Homo sapiens: one gene and its partner. Each later gene encodes a partner of the first gene's protein in a complex. Each region holds a gene or a part of one and is shown on either strand. Other genes may lie near its edges. A codon is read from its position in the direction of its gene.

Region 1 (10,278 bases):
ACTGGGTTCAAGTGATTCTCCGGCCTCAACCTCCTGAATAGCTGGGATTACATGCCTGTGCCACCACACCCGGCTAATTTCCTTCCCTCCCTTCCCTTTCCTTCTTTCCTTCCTTCCTTCCTTCCTGTTTCTGACAAAGTTTCACTCTTGTTGCCCAGGCTGGAGTGCAATGGCTCAGTCTTGGCTCACTGCAGCCTCCACCTCCTGGGTTCAAGTGATTCTTCAGTCTCAGCCTCCCGAATAGCTGAGATTACAGGTGCCCGCCACCACGCCTGGCTAATTTTGGTATTTGTAGTAGAGATAGGGTTTCGCCATGTTGGCCAGGCTGGTCACGAACTCCTGACCTCCAGTGATCCACCCGCCTCGGCCTCCCAAAATGCGGGATTACAGGTGTGAGCCACTGTGCCCAGCCTGACACCCAGTTTTCTCATGCTTCACCACTGACCCTTATCCCAGCCTGGGCTCCCTGACTTCTAGCCCAAGCCCTGGCCGCAGTCCTCAATCCTTTTTGCTTTCAAGCCAGTTACTGTTTTTAAATACTTTTTTTTTTTTTTTTTTTGAGACAGAGTCTTGTTCTGTCACCCAGCCTGGAGCAGTGGCACAATCTTGGCTCACTGCAACCTCCACCTCCTGGGTTCAAGCGATGCTCCTGCCTCAGCTTCCCAAGTAGCTGGGATTACAGGCACACGCCACCACACCTGGCTAATTTTTGTATTTTTAGTAAAGACAGAGTCTCACCATGATGGCCAGGCTAGTCTCGAACTCCTGAGGCCACCTGCCTCAGCCCCCTCAAAGTGCTGGGATTACAGGTGTGAGCCACCGTGCCTGGCCATTACCTACATGTTTGTTTTTTTTTTTTTTTTGATTACAGAAATGATACAGAATTGTCATAAAGAACTGAGAACACATAGCAGATCTTGAAAGAACTCAGCCCCTGGCTGGGAGCGGTGGCTCATGCCTGTAATCCCAGCACTTTGGGAGGCCGAGGTGGGGAGATCACGAGGTCAGGAGATCGAGACCATCCTGGCTAACACGGTGAAACCCTGTCTCCACTACAAAATACAAAAAAATTAGCCGGGCGTGGTGGCGGGTGCCTGTAGTCCCAGCTACTCGGGAGGCTGAGGCAGGAGAATGGCATGAACCTGGGAGGTGGAGCTTGCAGTGAGCCGAGATCGCGCCACTGCACTCCAGCCTGGACGACAGAGCAAGACTCCGTCTCAAAAAAAAAAAAAAAAAAGAACTCAGCCCCTGAGATGTCCCTGTGGGAACAGCCATGGTCACTGGGGAGTGAGCAGCCCTCAGCAGCTCTCTCCAAGAACATACATCATGTAGAGGCTCATCTATGCCTCTGCTGCAAGGTTCCTCTTCAGGCTGTGCCTGGCCAGGTGGGGGTTAATTTATTCTCTCCATCCCCCCACCCCCATCCTGTCACCCACCGTCCCATGTTCTGGGCTTACCTGCGCTCCGTGGAGTTCTAGGCCTGGGAGGAGCAGAGTGTACAGCCGAGCCCCAGGTGTGACTGTCTCTGGCACCTGAATCATTTCCCCAGCTGGCCAGAGTGGAGGTCAGGGAGGATCTGCTCAGGCCATGCCTGCCCCCACCCTGCCGGCTGCCCCTGGCCTCACCTGGGCTGGCAAATTGACCAGCACACTGGATATGGCTAAGGTCCCGCTGCACATCCACAGAGAGTGAGCCCTCCATCACATGGTTGCCACATGTGAACTTCAGCTGCACCTTGTAGTGGTTCACCATCAGGGCATCCAACTGAGCAGAGCTGCTCAAGGTCAACTGGGGTGGGTGGACAGTGCCATGTGGGGCTTGGAAATTTTAGGTCTGCCCTTGTGCCCCCACAGTCCCCAGCTGTACACATGACCCTACCTTGCCCACATAGGTCCCTTGCCACCTGGCCAAGCTGGGTGGGTTGAAGAAGGTGGTGGGTGGCTGGACATTGAGCAACTCCAGGGTGGGTGTGGGCGTGTAGGAGGAGCAGTTGAAGGATAAAAACTGAAGGACTGTGCCAGGGCCCTGGCTCTCAGAGACATTTATAAAGCAGGGCAGGCTGCAGAGGTCTGTGAAGAGCAGAGAATTCAGGCTGGAGGCCCCCAGGCTGATGGAACCACACATACTAGCATAGTCCTGTCCTTTTGCCACAGGGCCTGGCCATGCCATGGGGCCAAGCAGCTAAGGCCTTTCCTTGTATCCAGCATCCAGCATTTCACAGATGGGGAGTGAGAACTTGACTGAGGAAGTGGCCAAGAGAAGGGGTGAGGGCCAGGGGTTCAGATTCTTACACTTTCCTACCTCTCCCCCAATCCCTGTCCTCCATGGTAGCTTATCTGGGAAGGGTCAGGACTCCAAGGGAAAACTACGGTTCCCCCACCCACCACCTCCTCACCAGAGACCACCGGAGCAAAGAGGAACACGAGGAGCCTGAGCAGCACCATGATGACCTGAAGACACAGACAGCAGAGGAGGCTTCAGAAAGCTAGGCTGTTTGTCTGACTCACCCTGTTGCCAGGTCAGTTGCTCAAACATAGCTGGGCAGGCGGGACTCCTGGGCCTCCCAGATTCTATCCCCACCCATCCCTGGTGACTGAGTTCTAGACCTCTGGCAGGCTTCCAGAGGCTCAGAATATCCCATTTTCCATTGCCCCCATTCATTACAACTCTAAGGGCATGGAAGGGGAGGAGGATTAAGGTTCAGATGAGGAAACTGGTCATGCAATCCGTGGAGATAGAGCAAGCACAGCACCCAGGAAAATTTGGCCCAGGACCTGCTACCCCACAGAGTCTCAACTCCAGCTGGACCCCCTCCATTAGAACATTATCTGCCTATAAAAAATGAGCCCAACCGTCAACAAAATCTCTCAAAACTTGCTGGGTGTGGCGGCTTACATCTGTAATCCCAGCACTTTGGGAGGCTGAGGTGGGAGGATCACTTGAGCTCAGGAGTTCAATATCAGCCTGGGCAACAAAGTGAGACCCCATCTCTACAAAAAATTAGTTGGGTGTGGTGATCCAGGCCTGTAGTCCCAGCTACTCTGGAGGCTGAGGTAGGAGGATTGCTTGAACCCCAAGAGATCGAGGCTGCAGTGAGTCATGATTGTGCCACTGTACTCCAACCTGAGTGACAGAGCAAGACCCTGTCTCAAAAAAAAAGAAAAAAGAAAAAAAAAGTTGTCTACATCCAACAAGCAAAAGGAATCCTTTATGATAGAAATACAAATACTGGTTACCGTTGGGAATATCAGTTGGATAGGGCACCAGGTGGCATCCAGGAGTTGCTGAGGATGTTCTATATCTGGGTGGCAGCTGCACAAGTGTCTACAGATTTTAACATTTACTGGGCTGTAACTTTGAGATCTGTCTATTTATTGTATTTATATGTCAGTTTTTTTAAGTTTTCTGGCCAGGCACGGTGGCTTATGCCTGTATGGGAGGCTGAGGCAGGAGGATCGTTTGAGATCAGGAGTTCGAGACCAGCCTGGACAACATGGTGAAACCCTGTCTCTACAAAAAAAAAAAAAAAAAAAATTAGCTGAGTGTGGTGGCACATGCCTGTAGTCCCAGTTACTTGAGAGGCTGAGATAGGAGGGTCACTTGAGCCCCAGAGATGGAGGCTGCAGTGAGCCAAGATCATGCCACTGCACTCCAGCCTGGGTGACAGAGTGAGGCCCTGTCTCAAAAAAAAAAACAAAAACGGTTGTCTTTATTTGCCATCTCCAGTTCTTCAGTCCTCACTCTCTTCTCCACACACTCTAATCAGGCTTGTCCCTCTCTACACAAAACTGCCCTTGTCAGGGTTCCCAGTGACCTATGCACTGCCGAATCCAGTGGTTTGTTCTTCACCCTCACTGCCTAGGCAGCATTCAATGCTTGCTCCCCTTGGGTCCTGAGTCCCCACATTCTCAGATTTCTCCTGGCTGTTCCTGCTCAGCTTCTTTGATAGCTCTGCTTCATATCTCCCCTACCTCCACCTCATGGAATGTCCCAGGGCACAGTCCCGATTGCTGTCTCCCTCTGACTACACTGATTTCCTCCCACCCCACCTTATCCAGGCCTATGGCCTTACATACCATCCATTCACTCACTATGCCTCCCAGATCCAAGGCTCCAGTGCTGATCTCTCTCCTGAAGTCCAGAGTCATACACCTAGCAGCTGACTCTGCAACTCCTCTTGGATGTCTAACAGGCATCTCAAGGGTTACGTGTCCATAAATGATCATTGGATTTTCCTCTCCAAACCCACTCTTCTCCAGTCTTTCCCAGATCAGTTTATGGCAATTTCATCCAACCAGCTGTTAATGCCAGAAATGTAGGAGTCATGCTTGATGCCTCTTTTCCTGCCCACATCCATGCATCAGCAAGACTTGATTTTAGTTCCAAAACATACCCCAAAGTGACCCCCTTCAGTGCACCTGCCCTGCCCAGGCCTAGGCCCTCCCCTTCGTTGCCTGGATGAGGGCAGGGACTTCCACTCTTATTGCAGAATCCTTTTCTGAAAGCAGCTGGGATTATCTAAACAAGGGCTAGCCCAGGTCATTCCTGCTCAAAGGCCCCCATTGCTCCTCATCACACCAAGAACAAAACCCACATTCTGCTCTAAGGCCGTTAGAGCCTGGTTTTGCTGACCTTTTCCCTCCTGCCACCACCACCAATCACAGACACCTGGGCCTTCTTTATGTTTGGCCCTGTCCAGCTCCTGTCCGTCGGGGTCTCTTCCCTGGCTGCTCCTTCTGCCTAGAATGTTCTTCTTCTCCTTCTTCTCCTTCTCCTTCTTCTCCTTCTCCTCCTCCTGCTTCTTCTTCCTTTCTTTTTTTTTTGAGACGGAGTCTCACTCTGTCGCCCAGGCTGGAGTGCAGTGGCGCGATCTCCGCTCACTGCAAGCTCCGCCTCCCGGGTTCACGCCATTCTCCTGCCTCAGCCTCAGGAGTAGCTGGGACTACAGGCGCCCGCCACCACGCCCGGCTAATTTTTTTTGTATTTTTAGTAGAGACGGGGTTTCACCATGTTAGCCAGGATGGTCTCGATCTCCTGACCTCGTGATCCGCCCGCCTCGGCCTCCCAAACTGCTGGGATTACAGGCGTGAGCCACCGCGCCCGGCCAGAATGCCCCTCTTCTTGATTGCATCTTGATGTCACCTCCTGTGAGACTGACTTTCCCCAAGCTAGCCCACGGCCCTCATTCCCTGGTATTTTCCTGTTGCTGGTATGTCCAGTCTGTCTGCAGCTACACTACCCTTGAGCCTAGCCTGTGTTGATAGAGCAGCCTCAGCACCGACCCTCAGTCTGCACCTGGTACCGGCAAAGGGAATGCCGACGGTCGCGCGTCGCCGCTGGACTCGCGACTAGCCAAGCACTCCCCACTAGAGGGCAGTCCCGTCTAGCTCGGTTGGGACGCGGCTGAGGCCCCGCCGGTGCGCTGCCACAAAGTCCCGCCCTCTCTTGAGTCCTCAGACGGGCTGAACCCCACTTCCATCCCGTTCAGGGAGTGCCAAGGCCAGCCTCACGAATGGGTCCCGTGGGTCAGGCCCCGAGGGTCCACAACCTCTCTGGGTCCGACCATCCGGGGTGCTCTGCCTATGTGCGGACGCAGCACGGCGCCCCGTGAGAGGGACCGCTATTTCACCATTGAACAAACGGGGAGGATGAGGCCCCCGCACGGAGGCGACCTGTCCTGCGTCACGCAGCAAACGCAGGGTCCACTCAACAGTCTGGGGGCTCGGGGGGTCCCCGTACCGGCCCCGTCCGGCTTCCAGTTATGACCCCGCCCTTCCCACCCAGAACCGCGGCGGAGTCGGGAGGGACGCCGGGCTTTAGCCCCGCCCCCTTTGGCCGCGGGGCCGGGGCGGGGCGCGGCTGCCAGATGTCGGGGCGGCGGCGGCGGGAGCTACGGAGAGCGAGGAGTCGCGCAGGCAGGCGGAGGCTGAGGGCGCCGCTGGCCGGCCCTCCCAGCCCTCTCCGCGCGGCTCCGCCGGGGTTCCAAGAGGAGCTAGTAGGTTCGGTGGGGGCCCTGGCATGGACATGCACAGCGCTCGGCTTGACAGCTTCCTTAGCCAGCTCCGCTGGGAACTGGTGAGGCTCGGGAGCGGGTGTGGTTAGTGAGGACGCGTGCGGGATGCCAGGCTGCCGCCCGGCCGGAACAACAGACGGGTGCGGGGTGGCTCCAGCGTGCCGGTCCGAGGCGGGGTGGGGGCGGCGTGGCGCATATGGCTCAGATGGCCCGCGTCGGGTTTCGGACGGTTGGGAACTGAGCTGAGCATCAGATAACAGCATCCAGCTGGCCGTGCTGCTGGAACGGCGCGGGAGGAGAGAGTGGAAGGGGGACTTCTTTGGGGGCGGGGCATGGGGCGGCAAGGGACTAACGAGGTGCTGGCGCTGCTGTGAACGCCCCCTACTTCAGGCTGGCCTATGCCTCCCTTCTCTACCCCTCACCTAGCAAGCGCTCTTTCTGTGAAAGACGCTTTGGGCTTTGGGAGCTGAATCCCCCAATAGGCACGGGATGCCCCTCCAGTCCTGGGCAGGACCTACTTCCCCGTTCAGGCCCGCAACCCTGCCTGCCTGCCCGCCCGCCCTGGTGGCGGGTGCCGACTTGCCCGGCCCTGCATGCTGCAGCCTGCCAGACTGCCACCAGGTCGGTGGATGAGAACCACACCAGCTTCGAGTGCCAGCACCCCTATGCCTGCCCTGTGCTCACTAACACCCTGCTGCCCAGGCCAGCAGGCCTATCTAACCTTCCTGGACCCTCTGTTCTCTGGGCTGGCCTGGTGACAAGTGATACCTCTCCGACTTCTGCCCTCTCTTCCCCTCAGTTGTGTGGTCGGGACACAGGCTCACCCTCAATGCCTGGTCCCCTGCAGCCAACCTCCCAAACTGGCCCAGATGTGCAGCCCAGCCACCAGCTTAGGGCCTCGGGTGCCTTGGAAGAGGACTCAGTCTGCTGTGTGGAGGAGGAGGAAGAGGAGGAGGAGGAAGCAGTGGTGACAGAAGACAGGGATGCAGCCTTGGGAGGCCCCAGGGAGCATGCCCTGGACTGGGACTCTGGCTTCTCGGAGGTGTCAGGCAGCACATGGCGAGAGGAAGAACTGCCTGTATCCCAGCGCCCAGCACCCTCAGCACAGCCCCTTCGTAGGCAGTGCCTCTCAGTCAGTGGCCTCCCCATGCCCAGCAGGGCCCCTGTAGCCAGTGTACCACCTGTCCACCATCCACGGCCCAAGTCCACCCCAGACGCCTGCCTGGAGCACTGGCAGGGACTGGAAGCAGAGGACTGGACAGCAGCCCTACTGAACAGGGGTCGCAGTCGCCAGCCCCTGGTACTAGGGGACAATTGCTTTGCTGACTTGGTGCACAACTGGATGGAGCTGCCTGAGACAGGGAGTGAAGGGGGTGACGGAGGTGGGCACCGTGCCCGTGCTCGGCCCCCTCAGTTCCTGCTTGGCCTCTCTGAGCAGCTTCGGCGCCGGCTGGCCAGGGCTCGGCGGACAGCTATGGCAGGAAAGCGGCTGTCATGCCCACCTCGCCCAGAACCTGAACTGCCTGCGGATGTCTCACGCTTTGCAGCTCTCATGAGCTGTCGTAGCCGCCAGCCCATCATCTGCAATGATGTCAGCTACCTCTGACCCTGCCCTCCAGCCTGGGACAATAAAAGCCTTTTTTCTAGACTGTCCTGGCTCCATACCCCTGAGGCACTAAGAGGCAGCCCCAGCCCTGTGAGGCACTGCCCAGGGAGACAAATCTTCTGAAGAGCTTTTTTTCTCTGTGTGAAGGTCCCTGTCATGCCCATGTCACACCCGTGTGCATTAGTGCACTGTTTTCTATCGTCCATCCTCTCTGCAATGCCTTCCTTTAACAAGCATTTATTGAGTGCCTACTGTGGGCTTACAATGCAGGGCTTGGGATCCGGGGCTCCATTGAGCTAGGTGACAGGGTGGCTGCCTTGTCACAGCTCATAGTGCAGAGGTGGGAAGGCAGTGTCCTCGTCGTCACCCTCACAGCTCAGCTCTAGCACCAACACCCGCTGCCCAGGAGCAGGTGCCTGGCCTGTCAGCTGCTGAACCAGTTCTGTCACCCTGGTAGGGGTGGGTTTAGGGGAGATTGGAGAGGTGAGCCATGGCAAGCAGAAGGCAGCCTGGCATGGACTAGAGAGGGTGCTGGCAGGCCGTCAGGAGCCCAAGCCAGGAGCAGGAGCTGCTCAAGACAGGAAACATCTGAAACTATTTTAGGAGCAGCTGATGAGGCAAGCAGGAGGCAGGAAGCTATGGGTCCCTTGGGAGTGGGCTGTGAAAGGGGGGCTGTGCAGCATGTGGGGAGCCCATGGGGCTGGCCAAATAGGCAGCTCCTGAAGACTCCTCCTCAGGCTCTCGGCCCTCACCCCACCTCCAGCCTGTTTGCTGGCTCCATTTGGGGAAAGAATGCTTGGGAAGGTGTGAGGGGCCCAGAATGGGGCTGGGAAGACAAAAGGCAGTGTGGTCCCTAGCCCCAGCCTCCAGGGACTGGTGGGGCCTGTCTAAAGCCCCAAGTGGGCTCACCTGAGGGGCAGGTGCTGGGCCTGCTTTTCAGGTGACCATCCGGCCGCATAGAGCAGGGCTGAGCCGTGCAGCAGGATCCTCACCCTCAACCCGTGCTGCTCCTAGAGGAGAAAGGTCAGACACCAGCTGGGCCGGGCTGGGCTGAGCCTGGGGGTTGGGGTAGCAACAGGGCACACCTGAAGATGAGCCAGCAGCGACTCCAGGGTCCTCTCAGGCTGCCCAGCTGGTACCTTCAGACGGTCCCAAGAGGTCCACTTCAGGTGATGGAACTGGGATGAGGTAGAGGAGGAGTCAGAGACTTCTTACCTCCCCCCAACCCCCATCCCAGTTACCAGCAGCCTTTCCTAGGGGAAGAGCTGGACTAGCAGGAAACAGGAGCCAGGGGGTGGGGGGTGGGGGGGAGGTGGGATCTGGGCCCAGAGTCTCAGCCCCCTCCCCGTCCAGGCCGGGGCCAGCACAGGAAATGGGGCTATGGGGCCCGCACAGGGAAACAGACGATCCATCACATGGGCCAGTTGTGAGAGTGGGGGATGAGGGGGTGGTGCTTCCTGAGGAAACCCAGAGCAGGGCCCCTGCAGCCTCTGATAAAGCTGCTTGTTCCTCAAAGACAAGGCTGGGAGCTGGGGGGCACATCCTGTCCCCCAATCTTGTATGTACTGCCAGTGCCTTGGGCTACTCATTGGGACACAGGGGCAAAGGGCACAGTGACCACCAGGGCCCCACTGTCCCAGAGACCCCAGCAGGGATACAATGCATAGAGGCTTCCTCCTCCTGTCCCTTCCTTCCTTCCAAGAGTCTTGGGGTTCTGGGACCTAGAGCTAAGGACAGAAGGATGGCTGGCAGGTATCTAGAGACCAGGACAGGGGGTGCTTATCAGCCCCTGAGAAAACACACTGGGGTCAAGCTGAGACTAGGCTAGAGGTGAGATGGGGGCTTCTCCTTCACCTGCTTCACTCTGTGGACAAAGGCAGCCTGTATGCTGGTTAGAGGCAGGGTGCCTCACAAAGGGGCTCTGTGTGCTAGTCCAGAGGGACCCCAGGCTGCTCAGCAGAAACCCAGTGCTGGCCCATGACCTCTGCCCTCTCCCCTCATGAGGGCATTCCTTCTACCCTCATCCTTGCCCCAAGGAAATGCCAACTGCAGAGCCTGGGCACAAGGCTGGAGGCATTCACAGCGCTGCAGTCACAGGAACACAAATGCCCACAAGCCCAGGAACACACACATGTGTGCCCACATGCATCTCCATGCATGCCCACATTGAGGACACAGGAAGATGGGAGCCCTGCACTCCCATCTGATGCACAGATGTGCAAACTTGCTCCTTCCATACCCACACTCCGGGGATGCCCAGACCCCAGTTGCACTCACAACTGTGACACAAATACACTCAGGGCTGCAGACCCCACACCTCTAGTGGCAAGCCTATTACCTTTTAACTCAGCTTGTAGGAGGTAGGCCAGGGCCCCCGTACCATGCAGGGGGAAGCTAGACTCTTTCTGGGGCTGATGCCCTGGTCCCCTCCCCACTACCTACCCCTCAGGGGTACTCCAAGGAAGGAGGGGACTGTGGGGGATGTCTGGCTCCACTAATGAGTTAAAGCTGCAGCTCCCCCAGATCCTGGGCTTTGGAGGATTGGGGGTGGGGATGGCTGACGGCTGCTTCCTGTGTCTGACAGGTCCCAGCCTGGCTTCATAGCAGGAAGAGGGCTGGAGGGAGTCTTCAGGACTTCTGCACAGTCTGAGTTTCAGTG
Region 2 (11,153 bases), on another chromosome or scaffold:
TGCTGGGATTATAGGCGTGACCACCACGCCCGGCTTAAGCATCAGTTTTGAAATCAAGATTTCCTGGTTACAAGCCCAGCAGAGTTGCTTCCAGGTGGTGGGACTTTGTTCTACTTTCCACTCTATTTCTGTGCCTCAATTTCCTCATCTGTTAAGTGGAGCTAAAGATCCCACTTTAAATATAAATAGTGACAATTAGATAAGATCAAGTAGTTAGGCAGGGCATGGTGGTTCATGCCTATAGCCCAGCACTTTGGGAGGTGAAAGTGGGAGGATCACATGAAGCCAGGAGTTGGAGACCAGCCTGGCCAACATATCGAGACCCTGTCTCTACACAAAATTTAAAAATGAGCTGGGTGTGGTGGCGCATGCCTGAGTCCCAGCTACTCAGGAGGCTGAGGCAGAAGAATCACTTGAACCCAAGAATAAGAGGTTATAGTGAGCTTTATGATCCAGCCATTGTACTCCAGCCTGGGTGACAGAGAGACCCTATTTTTAAAACAAAACAAAAGATATGTAGGTAAAGTGGATTTAGAGAAGGTCTGGCATAGAGGGTAGGGAAAAACTTGGAAGCAACCCAAATGTCCAATAATAGGGGATTCAAGTACTTTTTTTTTTTTTTTTTTTGAGACAGGGTTTTGCTCTGTCACCCAGGCTGGAGGGCAGTGGCCGATCTCAGCTCACTGCAACCTCCACACACACCCCCTCCCCAACTGGCTCAAGTGATCCTCCCACCTCAGCCTCCCAAAGTGCTGGGCTATAGGCATGAACCACCATGCCCAGCCTGAGTGCCCAGAGTAGCTGGGATTACAGGCATGTGCCACCATGCCCAGCTAATTTTTGTATTTTAGTAGAGCTGGGGTTTCGCTATATTGGCCAGGCTGGTCTTGAACTCCTCATCTCAAATGATCTGCCTGCCTTGGCCTCCCAAAGTGCTGGAATTATAGGCATGAGGCACTGTGCCCGGCCCAAGTACATTATGATACATCAATAATATTACATATAAAAAGCAATAGTTATAATAAACATTAAAATAGTACTTACTAATGATGAATATTTGCATATATACACCTTTATCTATGTTTTTTTCCTAAAGAAAGCAACACTAGTCTTTCTTTCCCTTTAAGATCAGTTCCTAGAAGTAGAATTGCTGTATCAAGAGGTAGATAGGAATATTAAGTCTCTTAATAAATATCACCAAAAAGCTGCCCAGATCCAGTCCACAGTGGGGTATGAGAGTGCTGATGGCGTGTACTCTCATCAGCACTAATTATATATTATAATATATTAATATTTAAAAACATTTTTCTGAGAGACCAAAAGCAAATCTCAGTTTAATACTTATTTCATTAATTGCTTGTTCACCAATTCAATTTTTTTGTATTCACTGTTATTTATTTATTTATTTATTTTAGGTCCTTTGCCTGTTTTTTTCTGTTGTATGTTTACCTTTTTCTCTTATTGATCTGCAGATGTTCTTTACATATGAAAGACAGAAAGCTTTTCTTGCCATCCATATGTCACAACTTATCTTTTTCCTTGATGTACTGAAATGTATCATTTTTATGAAGCCAAATCCTCTTCACCCTCCTCGCCTTTTTCCATCCCTCAAGAGTCACCTCCTCAACATCCCCACTGGGAAGCCTTCTGTAGGAGGCTCTTTGGAGTCTGATTTTCCTCTCCCAGGGTCCTGGAGTAGCAGGGCCTGATTGCTCACCCTGAGTAAGCCCTTGGGGTAGATCTGTCCCTGGGATTGTTCCAGGGGTCTGACTATTGATGCAATCCCCAACTAAGTTACAAGGGGACTTCCCCAAAAATGAGTTCTAGAACCTAAGGCTCTGAAGTTTGTGCAGGGCGTTAAAGAGGCAAAGGCTGCACCTGCCCCTCCTCCCGTTACTATGACCTGAATAAGGTGTTGTCATCTCAGCTCCTGGTCTTGGTTTTTTGTTTTTTTTTTTTAATGAAGATTCTGCAAGACACACAAGCATTTCAAAAGAGTGCAAAAACAAGAATGTTTCATGCTGACAAGGATTATTTTTATTTATTTATTTATTTATTTATTTATTTATTTATTTATTTTTGAGACAGGGTCTTGCTCTGTCACCAGGCTGGAGTGCAGTGGTGCAATCTTTTTTTTTTTTTTTTTTTTTGAGACAGAGTCTCGCTCTGTTACCAGGCTGGAGTACAGTGGCTTGGTCTCGGCTCACTGCAACCTCTGCCTCCTGGGTTCAAGCGATTCACCTGCCTCAGCCTCCCAAGTAGCGGGGATTACAGGCACGTGCCACCACGCCCGGCTAATTTTTGTATTTTTAGTAGAGATGGGGTTTCACCATGTTAGCCAGGCTGGTCTTGAACTCCTGACCTCATGATCCTCCCGCCTCGGCCTCCCAAAGTGCTGGGATTACAGGCGTGAGCCACCGCGCCCAGCCAAGTGGTGCAATCTTGGCTCACTGCAACCTCCACCTCCGGATTCCAGCGATTCTCCTGCCTCAGGCTCCTAAGTAGCTGGGATTACAGACGCCTACCACCACGCCTGGCTCATTTTTGTATTTTTAGTAGAGACAGGGTTTCACCAAGTTGGCCAGGATGGTCTCGATCTCTTGACCTTGTGATCCGCCCACCTCGGCCTCCCAAAGTGCTGGGATTACAGGCGTGAGCCACCACGCCTGGCCCCCAGTGCTGACAAGGATTCTTTAAAGGGCGCATTCTCTCTGAAGGCTGGTGGGAGCGTGAGTTGGATCCCTACAGCACAATTTGGCAATGTGTGTCCCAGGCCATGAGGAGGCAGCAGAGGGCAGTCAATGAGAACAGTGCCCGGGAGTCAAAGCTGGGTTTGCCCCATTGGTCCTTGAGTTTGAGCAAGTGAAGTTACTTCTCTGAGCCTCAGTTTCCTCCTCTGGAAAAGGGATGAATATTCACAGCTTTAGCTGTTACAATTACATGGCTTAGCACCCTGCTTCCTGATGCACAGAAATGCTTGAAACATGGGAACTGTTACTATTCTTTTTTTTTTTTTTGAGAGTCTCACTCACTCTGTCACCCAGGGTGGAGTGCAGTGATGCCACCTCTGCCACCTCGGCTCACTGCAACCTCCGACTCCCAGGTTCAAGCGATTTTCCTGCCTCAGCCTCCTGAGTAGCTGGGATTACAGATGTGCACCACCATGCCCGGCTAATTTTTTGTATTCTTAGTAGAAACGGGGGTTTCACCACGTTGGCCAGGCTGGTCTCGAAATCCTGACCTCAAGTGATCCGCCTGCCTCGGCCTACCAAAGTGCTGAGATTCCAGGCGGAAGCCACCACACCCGGCCACTGTTACTATTCTTAATTCTTAAAGATACACCTTCTCCTTGACCCAGAAGTTTCATTTGTAGTAGGAACAATAATTAGAGACAGGCACAAGGAAATAATTAGAGATGGTCACAAATATTTAGCTGCTTGGATTTTGCATGACAGGGAGGGGGATTATTTATAATGGCAAGGTACTACAGCATAGATGTTCAAAAGGACAGTGATTAAACAAATTCGAGTTCATTGATAGGATGGCATCTTATGCAGCCATTAAAACTAATCTTCTTGAAGAATATTTAATGACATGGAAAGACACTGGTGATATTTACAATCTTGTGGTTTAAAAGACAACATTCTAGGCTGGGTGTGGTGGCTCACGCCTATAATTCAAACACTTTGGGAGGCCAAGGCGGGGCGGATCACCTGAGGTCAGGAGTTCGAGACCAGCCTGACCAACATGGAGAAACCCCGTCTCAACTGAAAATACAAAATTAGTTGGGCGTGGTGGCACATGCCTGTAATCTCAGCTACTGGGGAGGCTGAGGAGGGAGAATCGCTTGAGCCCGGGAAGCAAAAGTTGCAGTGAGCTGAGATCATGCCATTGTACTCCAGCGTGGGCAATGAGAGCAAAATTCCGTCTCAAAAAAAAAAAAAAAGACACAACATTCTTTACAAACGTATGTTTCCAATTCTGTCAAAAGAAAAAAGGGGTCAGTCATGGTGGCTCACACCTGCAATCCCAGCACTTTGGGAGGCTAAGGTGAGAGGATTGTTTGAGGCCAGGAGTTCAAGACCAGCCTGGGCAACACAGCGAGACCCCGTCTCTACTAAAAATTAAGAAAATTAGCCAAGCCAGGTGCAGTGGCTCATGCCTGTAATCCAACACTTTGGAAGGCCAAGGCGGACAGATCACTTGAGACCAGGAGTTCGAGACCATCCTGGCCAACATGGGGAAGCCCCGTCTCTACTAAAAATACAAAAATTAGCCGGGCATGGTGGTAGGCGCCCAGGAGTCGTTTGAACTCTGGAGGCGGAGGTTGCAGTGAGCCAAGATCATGCTACTACACTCCAGCCTGGGTGACAAAGTGAGATTCTGTCGAAAGAAAGAGGAAAGAAAGAAGGAAGGAAGGAAGGAAGGAAAGAAAGAGAAAGAAAGAAAGAAAAAGAAAGAAAGAAAGAAAATTAGCCGGTGTGGTGGCTTATGCCTATAGTCCCAGCTACTTGAGAGGCTAGGTTGGAAGGATCACTTGAGCCCAGGAGTTTCAGACTGCAATCCCGCCTGGGCGACAGAGTAAGACCCCTATCTAAAAAAAAAAAAAAAAACAAAAAACAAAACAAACAAAAAAAAAAACGAATGAACAAATAAAAAGAAAAAAGATAGGTAAACATAAAGAAAAATTAACTCATCATTCAATCATTCATTCATTGTTGCCACCGACATTAGTAGAAATTAATTAAATGCCTACTATGTGGCTGTTCTGGGGCAGAGGAGAAGCACCAAACATTTAAGAGTATCTCTGAAGGGGTGGAATTACCACGCATTCAAACAGCCCTTCCACCAATGTTTACTGAGCATCTACATGCCAACAGTGCTGGGGCACTGGGAATGCAGCAGTGAACAAAGACAGAAATCCATGTTGTCATGGGGCTGACATTCCAGCAGAGGAGACAACCAACAAGCAATAACTACAATTAGGAGTGAGAAATAAGAACAAAGCAGACAGAGTTTGGTAGTATGTGAGAGGGATGTTTGCTGCTTTCCTTAGGGTGAGCGAGGGAATTAGTTCACAGAGAAAGTGACATCTGTGTAAAGCCCTGAAAAAAGGGAGGGAGAGATAAGGATACCTGGGGGAAGAGTATGTTCCAGGCAGAGGAACAACCAGTGCAAAGACTGTGAGGTGAGAGCGCACCTGACAAGAGTTCAGGAACAGCATGAAGGCTGGAGTCCAGTGAATAAGATCCAGGAGGAGAGATGTCTGGCCGGGCGCAGTGGCTCACGCCTGCAATCCCAGCACTTTGGGAGGCCGAGGCAGGAGTATAGTTTGAGCCCAGGAGTTCGAGACCAGCCTGGCCAACACAACAAAACTCTCTCTTTAAAAATAAAAGAAAAAGGCCAGCTTGGTGGCTCACACGTGTAATCCCAGCACTCTGGGAGGCCGAGGCGGATAGATCACCTGAGGTCAGGAGTTCGACCTGGCCAACATGGTGAAACGCTGTCTCTACTAAAAATACAAAAAATTAGCTGGGTGTGGTGGTGGACGCCTGTAATTCCAGCTACTCAGGAGGCTGAGGCAGGAGAATCTCTTGAACCCGGGAGGCGGAGGTTGCAGTGAGCTGAGATCGCGCCATTGCACTCCAGCCTGGGCAACAAGAGCGAAACTCTATCTCAAGACAAATAAATAAGTAAAAATAAAATTTAAAAAAATTTTTAAAGAAGATGTCTGCTGTTTGTTTTCAATATTTTGACCAATTACTTCGTAAAAACTTATTTAAAAATTGAAGAGCAAACAGTCTCAGGTTCCCGGGCTCAGACAGACCAGCGTTCAAAACTCATTACCTTCTTTCTATGATGCTAAGCCAGCTATTTCACCCTCTGAACCTCTGTTTCTTTATCTGTAAAATGGGTATTAATGATATTATACCACAGGGTTGTATATGCAGCGAGAAAATGCAAGTAAAACACTTATCCCGGTGCCTGCCTCCTAGTAAGTGCTTAAGAACTGTTTCTGCCCATTAACTCATTACTTTCTCCCAGCCCCTAACTCCTTCTGGGGGGGAAGTTAGAAAATCGGTATCACACGAAAACAGTCATTTCCCCTTTAAGGACCTCAGTGGGCCGGGAGCCAGCCTTCCCGCACCTTTTCCAAAATTTCCAATCCCCGCTTGGCATTTTCTGCCCGAAGGTCTCCGATTGGACGCTCTGTACCAATCGGAGGCTGGAGCGGGCCCTGAGAGGCGCCCGACTCCGCCCCCGCACTGGCCCTGCCCACTGCCCGGTCAGCCTCGTTGCTATGGGGACTGGTGGGCGGTGAGGGGGGAAAGCCCCGGATGTTCGTTGGGGATTCAACATGGCGGCGGGAGTGTCCGCGGTGGTGGCGGTGCAAGAGAGCTGAGGGAGGCGCGAGGGCGCGGAGTTCCAGGTCGAGCAGTTAGGCCGCGAGCGACTGCGGCGCCGAGCCGGTAGGATAAGGGGTCCGGCCAGGGGCTTGCGGTGGGCCGGGCGCTGGCGGCGGGACGGCGTTTCCGCGAGGAGGGGGGCGGGGCCGCCGGGGTCAAAGGTCACTGGTGGAGGGAAGGGTCGCGTCCGAGGGGTCGGGGGTTAACGCAGACTGGAGGGAGTTGTAGTGGAGGTCGGAGATCAAACCAGCGAAGGGGGCGTGGCGAAGGGGAGTGCAAAGTTTGAAATTCGAAGTGGGGGCGCGTTCGAGGGGTTCTGGGCGAGTCTCAAAAAAGGCAGGGTCAAAGTTAATAATTTGAGGGAAGGCTGCCCCCACGAGGGTCAGAGGTCACAGCCCCAGGGGCGCCAGGTTGGAGGTTTAAAGCTGCCCCTAGCGGAGCAGATGAATGAGTTTTAGGTTCGGGGGCGTCTTTTAGGGGTTCAAAGCTGGGGCGTGCCTAGAAGGTACAAAGGTGAGAATCTGACAGCGGGGCAGCTGTTTCCCAGAGTCAAAAATTAAAACCCAAGGAGGGCGTATTGCGGGGGACGGGGGGGGGGGGGGGGGCCGGGTCAGAGATGCTTCCTGGTGACAGGAGAAGGGGGAACCCTCCCACAAATAATAATGGCAAACACTCATGAAACACTATGGGCTAGACCCTCTTTTTAACGCTTTACTTGTATGAGCTTATTCAGTCCTCACTATAGTCTTAGGGGGTCTTAACCTGGTATTAAGAGGTTAAGTGATTTGCACAAGGTCACCCGATGCATAAGTTGTGCGCTGGGATTCTAACTCCGGAGTTCTGGCCCAGAGCCCTGCTCTGGCCGACCGCCTCTCAAATCATCATAATGTCGGTTAATGTTTAATGAGGGCTCACACTGTGCTCCACGCCCTGTGTGCCCGGTCGTATTTCACTCCTGCTGCAATCTTGTGAAGTGAGTGCTCAAGATGAACCTACTTTACAGACGGGAAAAATGAGGCTCAGAAGCTTCTGCTGAAGGCAGAGTTAGAATCGAAGCTGGGCCTGGGTGATTCCAGGGCTCCTGCCCCTGGTCGCCACATTGTCCGCTGCCAGCCATTAGGTCTCTCCTGGAAGCAGGGGGCTGGGCAGGGCTGGGCCACTCCCTGGGCGGATCGGATTGTCTGCTTGGTTTCCTTGGAAGGGTGTGATCTGGCAGGGAAGATTCCTGTGAGCCTATGGGAGTAGGGTGTTTGTAGGTGGTCTGGAGTCCGAGCAAGGGAGTCCGACGGGCTTCTGACTGGGGAGAGTGTCCCTGGGTGGTACCCTGGGCAGAGCGGGGTGTTCACTGTTCTTAAAACCCTAAGCTCTCACTGTGGTCCTTAGTCACTCCCACCTCACTTCTTATGGCTCTGCCCATTTCTCCCCAGCCCCTTTACTGTTCTCCAACTCCAGGCCCATGCCTCCCGCCCGGTCTTTGACCTTCCTGTTCCTTCTGCTGGGAATCCTTTCCCCACCCTGCCCTCTCTCACTGACGGGTCGCTCACTCTCAGCTGGCCCGGGACCACCCTGGCTCGCCTTGCTGCAGGCTCTTTTTCTCTCATCTGACCAGCCCTTACCTCCCTCCTTACCTTAATTATTAGGGTGCATGGTGGAATTGCTCTGTGGGGTTCCTTGCCTCGGTCCCCACTGAAGCCCTGCCTGGCCTGCAGAGGATGTGACATTGCTGGGGGTTGACTGTTGGGCACTGTGCCGGGTGCTGGGAGTGTGGCAGGGGACGAGATCCACAGAGCCCCTAGCCTCAGAGGGCACTCAGTTCCCTGGTGGGAGCAGAGTGGAACCAGCCCCCAAGCCAGTGACACAAGACTGCGTCTCTGCAAACGGTGATGTGGCTTGCGAGGGCATCTTCAGAGAGCCGGGAGAGTGCCCCTACCCTGGGCTGAAGCCTGAGTCCCTTTCCCCTGGGAAGGCTCTGAAGGATGGGGAGGAGGGCTGGGAATGGGCTTACCAGGCAGGAGGAGCAGTGTGTGCAGAGGCCCTGGCATGACTGGAGGTCAGGACTCGGGTGCACAGTTGGGGATCTGGGCAACACGTAGCCTGTGCAGGTTCAGGGCAAGACGCTGAGGGGACTCAGCTTTGGAGGGACGGTGGGAGCAGGGGAGGGCTGAGGAGTACCTGTATGTGTGGAGCTGCCTGAGGCCTTGATGGAGCGTGATTCAGAAAGCAGTGCTGGGCCAGAGATGCCTGGTACACACCCCTCTCCATCACTCACAGAGCATGTGAGGACCTCCGTTTCCACTTCTGCAAGATGGGCATAGTGTTAGCGCTGCCTCATAGAATTGCTGTGAGGATGCAGGCTAGAGAGCCTTGGCCCAAGGCCTGGCATACAGTAGTTGCTGTGTAAGCATTAGTCTTGCTGCTGCTGCTGCTGCCACCCCACCACTGCCTGGGGAGGGCCTCAGAGACAGTGGAGGCCCTCGCTCCACCTGCCTCCTGGCTTTCTCTGGCAGCCACCCCATCCCTACCTGGCTCTGGCAGGGTCAGGGAGCCGGCACACTGCCAGGCAGCCCTCTGAGGCTGGCCCAGCCTCCCAGCCTTGCAGTGCCAGCTCACTCAGCATCTCAGGGTTTGGCACAGATAAAGAAGGATAGGGTTTGGGCATTGGAGACCCATATTCAGGTCCCTCCCTTGTCACTTACCAGCCATGGGACAAATGATTTATTTGCCACTTTTATTCCTTCAACACGTTTGGCTAGGGGAAAAAGGGCTTTCAGTATAATGAAACACTCATGCATCCGGCCATCGTCTGGCCTGGGACAGAACACACCGTGATACAGTTAGAGGCCAAGGGTCTCCTCCTCACCCCCCCTCCTCCCTCCCTTCCAGGGGCAGCCTCTGTCCTGGGTGTGGCAGTCACCATTCCTCTGCAGCCTTTCATACTTTGACTGCCCTTGAATGTATTCACCAACAGTAGAGCAACAGCTCTTGCCCCTGGCTGCACATTGCAACTCCCTGGAGAGCTTTGAAAAGATGCCTTGGCCCAGGCCCGCCATGGAAATTCTGCTTCCAACTTACTTGGTCTGGGCTGGGGCTGGCCTCAGGCTTTTGGAAGCTCCCTGGGCAGTTCTTATGGCCAGCAGGGGCTGACGACTGTTGTTTCACAGTTCAGATAAATGGTGTCACCATAAACATGCCTTTCTGCAAGTTGCTGTTTTTGTTCAACATTATAGGTATATTTGAGATGGGATCTTGCTATGTTGCCTAGACTGGACTCTTAACTCCTGGGCTCAAGCTATCCTCCCACCTCAGCCTCTGGAGTAGCTGGGATTACAGGCGCGCACACCTGCTCCCCGCTTTGAGCTGAGCATTGGAGTCTGGATGTCTCTTGGTGGGGATGTGTGTAGGCCTGGGACAGGCCATTTGTTTTTCCTGATGGTGTTTCTTTTTGTGATCGTGTCACACAGGAGTTGCCTGTTCACCTGTTGATGGCCACTGAGGTGGTCCGTTGGAGCTATAACCGTGCAGCAGTGGGCCTTCTGGAACGCGTGTTCCTGTAGACCATGGCCAGAGTCTCTCTGGCATATGCCTAGTAGTGGAAAAGCCGGAGCTCCCCGCTTTCCTAGCGGTTGCCAAGTCATGCCCCCAGTGGCTGGACCACTGTGCTCCCCAGCAGGCTCCGGGGCTCCCTTTATTTCAAGTCCTGCTTTGGGCAGCTTTGTGGCCCTCACTGAAACGATTTCCTCGGCCGTGACATGGGAGGTTTATGGGCCCACCCACCCACCCACCAGGCTGTTTGGAAACAGATGGGGAGATGGTTCACACAACTGGCTTAGCTGGGACCTCGTCCCCACTGACTCCCTACAACCACAGGAGAAGAAAGGATGGAAGGGCTTTCACCTTTACCCCCTTGGGCATCCAGGACGGTGACTGCAGCTTTGCCCCAACTGCCCTTGGGGGCAGGTGCCAGGGGTGACAGCTGGGAAAGAGAACTATACTGATTCGAACCTCTCAGGAGGGAGGCAGGGAGGACGGAGGTGAAAGTTGGAGGATGGGTGAGGCCTTGTAACATTCTTTCTGTGTATCTGACTGTTGGTCCCAGTGGTAACCAACACAGCCCAGCTCTACCCTTGTAGATTATAGTACAGTGAAGGAGACAGACCTGCTGTCCCCAGACGGTGACAGCCCAGAGAGGCCAGGGCTGTGAAGGAGAGGCCTAGGCGAGGGTCAGGGCGGGATGTGGGGGGGACCCAGGCAGAAGGGTCAGGGCGGGATGTGGGGGGGACCCAGGCAGAGGGGTCAGGGTGGGGTGGTGGGACCCAGGCAGATGGGTCATGGCGGGATGGGAGCGGGGACCCAGGCAGAGGGATCAGGGTGGGACTGGGGGGGACCCAGGCAGAGTGGTCAGAGAAGGATGGGGAAACCCAGGCAGAGGGGTCAGGGCGGGATGGGGAAACCCAGGCAGAGGGGTTGGGGCTGGATGGTGGGGAGGGGCACAGAGAGGGATTGGGACTGGGATGGAGGCGCAGGGACCGTAGGAAGCCCGAGGAGGCATGTGGCCCAGCGTGGGGAGTTGAGGAGGGCTTTCTGGATAAGATGACATCTGACTGATGAGAACATATGAGCGAGGCTGGAAGGAGGTGGAAAGAATGTAACAGGTCATGGGTACGGAAGTGCCAAGGCCCTGAGGGTCGGAATGACCTCGGAATGGTCGAGGATCATCAGATAGGCCGGTGTAGGCTATGCTGTGCA

The links.
Region 2: the proteins of INKA1 (region 1) and PAK4 are in contact, whole or in part, in a crystal structure (PDB 4XBU), measured with the Homo sapiens proteins. Residues at the interface, in NP_976248.2 of Homo sapiens: Gly178 (codon at 7,293), Arg179 (codon at 7,296), Ser180 (codon at 7,299), Arg181 (codon at 7,302), Gln182 (codon at 7,305), Pro183 (codon at 7,308), Leu184 (codon at 7,311), Val185 (codon at 7,314), Leu186 (codon at 7,317), Gly187 (codon at 7,320), Asp188 (codon at 7,323), Asn189 (codon at 7,326), Cys190 (codon at 7,329); in NP_001014831.1 of Homo sapiens: Ser331, Gln358, Arg359, Glu361, Leu362, Thr404, Asp440, Lys442, Ser443, Asp444, Phe461, Leu475, Val476, Gly477, Thr478, Pro479, Tyr480, Trp481, Met482, Arg489, Glu507, Glu512, Phe516, Asn517, Glu518, Pro519, Pro520, Met524.

The regions. Positions count from the first base shown.
Region 1 is NC_000003.12:49,797,369-49,807,646, forward strand, and holds INKA1 (PAK4-inhibitor INKA1), read left to right. Parts: upstream 1-5,892; 5' UTR 5,893-6,024; coding exon 6,025-6,075; intron 6,076-6,812; coding exon 6,813-7,619; 3' UTR 7,620-7,662; downstream 7,663-10,278. Other genes in the region: CDHR4 (cadherin-related family member 4), read right to left, coding at 1,458-1,549, 1,626-1,788, 1,879-2,069, 2,396-2,450, 4,077-4,226; UBA7 (ubiquitin-like modifier-activating enzyme 7), read right to left, coding at 7,940-8,069, 8,529-8,629, 8,705-8,797. UniProt on the Homo sapiens protein: Inhibitor of the serine/threonine-protein kinase PAK4. Acts by binding PAK4 in a substrate-like manner, inhibiting the protein kinase activity.
Region 2 is NC_000019.10:39,119,450-39,130,602, forward strand, and holds the start of PAK4 (serine/threonine-protein kinase PAK 4), read left to right. Parts: upstream 1-6,336; 5' UTR 6,337-6,470; intron 6,471-11,153. UniProt on the Homo sapiens protein: Serine/threonine-protein kinase that plays a role in a variety of different signaling pathways including cytoskeleton regulation, cell adhesion turnover, cell migration, growth, proliferation or cell survival.